2 linked regions of the Homo sapiens genome follow. The protein of the gene in region 1 interacts with the protein of each later gene in a biochemical or structural test. Each region holds a gene or a part of one and is shown in the gene's direction. Other genes may lie near its edges.

Region 1 (3,500 bases):
GGGGTTTCACCATGTCGGTCGGGTTGGTCTTGAACTCCTGGCCTCAAGTGATCTGCCTACCTCGGGCTCTCCAAGTGCTGGGATTACAGGCATGAGCCACTGCCCCTGGCCCAACTTTCTGTTAATCTTTATTGGATACTTTTTCACTGTGCTGACCCCATGTGAATACTATTCAGGAGGTATGACAGTACCATTATGGTTATAGCTGTGGACACTATTCTTTTATGCTCTGTACTCATAGCTCTTCACCTTTAGGAACTAGAGTAGATGTAAAGCATTTAAGAATTTTAAGGTTTGAGCTATTTCATGATCAACCTGAAAGGGCCATAACTTGTAGGTAATACGTATTTTTGTTTTGACTGTCATGTGGTAGAAGTTACCTGAAAAATGAAGCCAACCAACTCTTTTGCATTTCAACTGTTGGTTTATTTTTTTTGAGACGGAATTTCACTACGTGGCCCAGGTTGGAGTGCAGTGGTGTGATCTAGGTTGACTGCAACCTCTACTTCCCAGGTTCAGGCAGTTCTCCTGCCTCAGCCTCCTGAGTAGCTGGGATTACAGGCCCACACCACCAATCCCAGTGAACTTTTGTATTTTTAGTAGAGACAGGGTTTTGCCATCTTGGCCAGGCTGGTCTCAGACTCCTGACCTCAAGTGATCCACCTGCCTCGGCCTCCCAAAGTGCTGGAATTATAGGCGTGAACCTCCACGCCTGGCCTCAACTGTTTAATTTTTCACTTTACTGTTTATATCTCCTAACATGAGTTATTGTTCTGAAGCACTCAAAATTTTAATCTCTATTTGATTGTGTTCGAAGGTGGATATCATATGTTACACTCTTGATTTGTGGATTCTGGATTCATTAAGAATATCAAGATTTCTTCTGTAATTTGTGTGGTTCTTCCTAAATACAATAACTTGATTTACGAATTCCTGTTGCGCTGTGTGCGGTGGCTTGCATCTGTAATCCCAGCACTTTGGGAAGCTGAGGTGGGCAGATCGCTTGAGTCCAGGAGTTTGAGACCAGCCTGGCCAACATAGCAAAACCCCGTCTTTACAAAAAATACGAAAATTAACCGGGCATGGTGGCACACACCTGTAGTCCCAGCTACTGAGAAGGCTGAAATGGGAGAATTGCTTGAACTGAAGAGGCGGAGGTTACAGTGAGCCGAGACTGCACCACCACACTCCAGCCTGGGTGACAGTGAGAACCCTGTCTCAAAAACAAAACAAAACAAAGAATCCCTGTTGCCTCACCATACTTCATGCATCCTACCCCTATAGCACTTCTGATGAAATTGCGTGCCGTAGATTTAGCAATTTAGAGAATTCTAGCTTGTTTGTATGGGTTTAAAGTTTGCATGACATTTATGTTTCTATTGTTGGTCTAAAGTTAGCCCAGAGATTAGCAGGGAGCAGTAGGCTCAGAGAGTTGTCTTCCTTCTTTACTTGGTACTGCATCTCTAGGCTTGGTAGCTCTTCAGTAAATACTCTCAAAAAATACTTATTTTTAAGAAGACATTTATGTGATATTTATAAACAAATTAATCCTCAGTGGTTAGAATATGCAGTGAAATAGCAAGCAGACAATCCTTTTTTTCTCTTCTGAGAAAAGTGCTTCATACCACAGTTACAATTTTGTATGCACTAATCAAAAAATGTGTTATAAACTCTAAAGTTTAGATGATGGAACTGTACATGAAAATAACATTCCTCTTGCTGGTTCTGTGATTTTTGTACATTAGCTTAGAACAGTGGTCCTCAAAGAGCGTTCCCACTTCCAGAAGTAGCTGCATTAACTAGGAACTTGTTAAAATGTAGAATCCCGTGTTGAATCAAAACATTTGGGTGGGACCAACAATCTAGGTTTTAATAAGTTTTCCAGATGATTCTAATGGCATGTTACGTTTGAGTAGTTGATTTTACATTGGTACTAACATTGATTCACCCATACATGGAATAATTGGGGGGTTTTTTTGAGGTGTGGTGTTTGTCAGATTTTTAAAAACATTGTTGACTGGGCGCGGTAGCTCATACCTGTAATCCCAACACTTTGGGAGGCTGAGGCGGGCGGATCACGAGGTCAGGAGTTCGAGACCAGCTTGCCAATGTGATGAAACCCTGTCTCTGCTAAAAATACAAAAATTAGCCAGGCATGGTGGCGTGCGCCTGTAGTCCCAGCTACTTGGGAGGCTGAGGCAGGAGATTCGCTTGAACCCAGGAGGCGGAGGAGGTTGTTGCAATGAGCCGAGATCATGCCATTGCACTCCAGCCTGGGTGTCTCAGCGAGACTCCGTCTTAAAAAAAAAATTGTTCATGCAACTAACCTAGTTTGAGAATTACATGTATTATGTACTGCTCACATTACATGTTATCTGTATCTCTTTATAGGAGAATGCCTTCCTGTTAGCCACCTGCCAGACATCTTTAGGAAAGTATGATCCCTCTGTCCAATCAAGAGTATTCTGCTTTTTCTCTACTTAGGGAGTACCCATAGTTTTCAGTCATCTGTACCACTGCTGCTCTCCTTTCTTGTCACAAATGATCAAGGCCTGATAATACACAAAATTAATTAAGAAATTTAGTGTAGGCCGGGCGCAGTGGCTCATGCCTGTAATCCCAGCACTTTGGGAGGGTGCCAGCACACTGGCAGATCACGAGGTCAGGAGTTCGAGACCAGCCTGGCCAACATGGTAAAAATACCAGAATTAGCTAGGCGTGGTGGTGGGTGCCTATAACCCCAGCTACTCAGGATGCTGAGGCAGGAGAAACATTTGAACCCAGGAAGCGGAGGTTGCAGTGAGCCGAGATCGCGCCATTGCACTCCAGCCTGGGCGACAGGGCGAGACTCCGTCTCAAAAAAAAGGAAATTTAGTGCAATTATTAACTCTTAAGTGAAGTGCTGTTTCTACTTACATATTTAACATCCATCTAAATTGGTTAGCATGGCCAACTAGTTGTTTTTAGTCTAAAACAACCTGTAACAGGAATAAAAGTTACTGTTAAAATGAAGAAAAACAAGGCTTATTTCAAAGTTATTATTAACATACTATTTTACCTAACAATTTATGGCCAAGTCATTCTAAAGAATAAACTATTGTGGTTAAGAGAGACTGTATCCAGATTGAAGTTTTTACCACAATGCCTGGCACAGTAAAAGGTTTATTAAATTATAGCTATTACAGTTACCATCACCACTGTTAACTTTTGGCTGAATCGTTTTGTCATTGTTGATATTTTTGTTGTTTGGTCATGACATACTATTATCTTGAGATGGTAGCTGTTACACCTAGTGCATAGCGTTTGATTTAGAAAATTTGAAGATTTGAAAAATTTTGTGTTTTTTTTCCTTTTTTTTTTTTTTTTTAAACAGCCTGCTCTGTTGCCCAGGCTGGTGTACAGTGGTGGCATCAAAGCTCACTGCAGCCTTGACGTGGCCTCAAGTGGTCCTCCCAGGTAGCTGGGACTGACTATAGGCATGCACCCCACACTTGGCTAAT
Region 2 (3,500 bases), on another chromosome or scaffold:
AATGCACAGAAACAATTATAATTCCATATAATTGACCTGTTAACTCATGCTAAATCATCTGCTATTCAGTCTCAGTGCATTCTTTAACTAAAAAGTTAGTCTGTGCCTGTTCTGTATATAAATATATTTAAAAGTAAAATAGGCTAAAAATCACTGTTGGTGCTCATTGGAAACATTTTGGGGGCGTTTAGTTGTGGCCAGCAAAATAGGGATACATTGAAAGGTTGATGTTTTGTTTTTGCTTTTCTAATAATTTCATTTAAGGTTTGGTGTAAAAAGAGTTGATAATTTATCACAGATACTGCTTTTTTAGAGCATGATTATGAGAGCTAGCATGTTATCATATTGAGGGTGTTTTTGAAAAGAACAGTTTGCAAACAGACAGGAGAAGAGACCAGAGGCAGCTTGGCCAGTATGGTGCTTAAATAAGTGTTTCATCTCATACTGGATTTTATCAGGAGCTGAAGTTGGTAATGTATTCCTTGACTGATTTGGTTTTTATCACATTTTAAAAAGTACTGGTGAAGCAGGATATTTTCCTGACCCCTTCATGGGACTTGTGAAGGGAGCACCCTGTTTACTCAGCCCACCGCTTTCAACTCCTCATAGGAGGGAGCACGTGAGTGAACAAGGCAGGAACTGGAATACATGAGTGCTGGAGTCAGCCTGCCGCTCTTGTGCCAGGAGGAATGAACTCCACTCACTCGGACCTGCTGTGTTTCACCCCTCACAAGAGGGGATGTGCAGTTGAGTGGGTGCAGGAGCCGGGGCGAGTGCTTTTGGGCACTGGCAGGAGTCAACTCTGTGCTGGCCCTGTGGTAGCATCTCCGGGGGTGGTGCCTGCAACCCCTGAAGCTCCAGAGGGAATGTTACAGTGCTCTTTTAGCTCTGCTGTCCGCAGACGGCTTAAGGGTTAACAGCTCAGTGGGCCCTCTGCCTTTTTGTGTTAATCGGCTGCCTTCTACCAGTGAGGGCAAAGGGCAAGTGTGACAGCCTTTTTGTGTCCACACTCATCGTTCCCGAGCTCTTGTCCGGCATCCAGGAGAAATGAGGTCACATGAATGAATTGAAGGATGGTAAATGTAGGGGATCTTATTGCTGATGGAGATGGCTCTTAGTGGGAAGGGGAGCTGCAAAGGGCAGGAAGGTAGTCTTCCCCTGAATGCCAGCTGTCTCTGGCCAGATTCTTCTTCGAAGTTACGCTGTCAAGGTGTCCCTCTGAAGTCGAGCCACTTCTCTCTGATGTCCAGCTGTAGTCTCTAATGTCCAACTGCTTCTCTTCTCTCTGCTGGCTGAGCCTGGGGTTTTTATGTACACAGGATGGGGTGTGGGGTGGGCCGTAAGTGGTTTCGGAAAAGGCAACATTCGCACGGGAAAATGGGGATATAAGTTCTCACTTTGCGTCATGGTTTCAGGCTTGAGGGTGGGGTTTTCTCAGGGACCTGCCCTTTTCTGCCTAGAATTTCCCTGCCTCCTGTCCCTGTCACTCACTAACTTCTACTCTTTCTTTTGAGTATTCTCACCTGTCTTTTTTTTTTTTTTTTTTTTGGTCTAGGCCAGTGTTCTCATTGAGTTATTATGGCTACTAGTTAATGGTGGTTTTAATCATTTTATATTGCTTTGAAATGTTTTGAATCATGTTTCTGTGATCTGACTTTGCACATTTGTTAAACTAGTCTTATTTATGTGGATTTAAAATCATCATGAGAAAATTTACACAAGCTAAAGTATAGAGAAAAAGTTTTACACATGGATATGAGGCATATTAAGAAGATGCTGAGCTGTGAGTTCAAATCCTTATTTTCTACACCTGTGTTACTTTGGTTTAAGCTATGTAAGCAAAATCAATGATAATTAGAAAATTGTTTTTAGTACCTACAACACACTGTCAAACACATGAAAAATATTGTCTAACATTTGTTATATGCCAAGCACGGTGATAAGCCCCTACAATGCATTGTCTCATTTTCACAGTAACCCTGCAGTAGATACTATATCATCTCCATTTTTCAAATGTGAAGCCTGAGGCTCAGCTAAGTTTGATGTAGGTGAAACAGTTAAGACGAAAGTTTTTCTGACTAAGGTTGAGGTATTAGATTAAGTTTGCTAGAATCTTTCAATTGAAAAAATAGCTCATAGTATCAAGATGAGATTATTTTAACCTGGGTTTGTGGTTGGCAGTTGTTTTATTTTGGAGAGTTATCATTGTTGACATTAAAATCCTGATTCCAGCAGTAACCTCATGATGTCAGCTTCTTATTATTGACAGCATCATGACATCTGTGTCAGCTTGCAAACCTTCTTTTGATGAAGGTGAACGGAATGACCTGGTTGTGTTTATCCCTTAAAACTGAAGAGAGAATCAACCACTAAAGCAATGGCCAGAAATGGGATCAGAGATTACAGTTACATTTTAAGAAATGATTTGCTTCAGTAGGAATTCTTCATTGATCCTGTAAACCAAAATAATTTAGATTACCAAATTAATTTAGAAAGTTTATTTTACCAAGGTTAAGGATGCACCTGTGGCACAGCCTCAGGTCCTGATGACGTGCCCCAGGCGGTAGGGGCACAGCTTGATTTTACATGTTTTAGGGAGACATGAAACATTAATCAACGTTTGTAAGATGTATAATTCATTGGTTCCATCAGGAAAGGCCAGACAACTCGAAGTGGGGAGGAGGCTTCTGGGTCATAGTTAGTTAAGAGACAAATGAGGAATAGTCACTTATGCCTTAGTCTGTAGTGAAACAGTAGGGCGGAGGAAGCCATCAGATACGCATTTGTCTCATGGGAACAGAGGAATGACTTTGAGTTCTGCCTGTCCTTTGGTTGTCCACAAGGAATTTCCTTATGGGCAAATTGTGAGGGAGGTATGTAGCTTTTTAAAAATCTTTGTAGTGATCTTATTTAGGAATAGAAAGGGAGAGAGGTTTGCCCAACACAATTCCCAACTTGACTTTTCCTTTTGGTTTAGTGATTTTGGGGAGATTTGTTTTCCTTTCACAATCCCAAGGTACATAATTTCCCACTGAAATACTTGTGCATGTGCTGGGGTTTGCCATTTTGTGTCTTTTTTAGTGTTCTTCCAAATTAAATTTTCAAGATCAAATATGGGACTCATTGTCCTGTTTATGGAGCTTTTTTTCTTTTGGTTGACTATTCTTTTGTTTCCTACAGTCTTCAACAACTGTTAGTGCTTACAATGGATACATCATGCATCTTAATTGATAGGATGGATATGATAATACCTTTTTTGGTCCAAGGTCCCGCTCATTAAAAAAAATAGTTTATAAAGCTGAAAAGTTTTTATTTCTATTTTTTGTAAAATGATTTTCATGATAGGATTTTATATAAAGGGGAAGGGTTTTTTGTATCATTTTTATAACATTTTTGAAATGAATACTTATTCTCTTTCATCATCTATTTTAGACTCACAGTTTTATGAGTAATGCAGTAAAGGTCATGTGGCACATTAGTAAAATATGTTCTGAACACAG

What was found.
Region 2: the proteins of RAB5A (region 1) and CHM form a complex in vitro, tested with the Homo sapiens proteins (one study listed by BioGRID).

What each region holds. Positions count from the first base shown.
Region 1 is NC_000003.12:19,953,597-19,957,096, forward strand, and holds part of RAB5A (ras-related protein Rab-5A), read left to right. Parts: intron 1-3,500. UniProt on the Homo sapiens protein: The small GTPases Rab are key regulators of intracellular membrane trafficking, from the formation of transport vesicles to their fusion with membranes.
Region 2 is NC_000023.11:86,037,559-86,041,058, reverse strand, and holds part of CHM (rab proteins geranylgeranyltransferase component A 1), read left to right. Parts: intron 1-3,500. UniProt on the Homo sapiens protein: Substrate-binding subunit of the Rab geranylgeranyltransferase (GGTase) complex.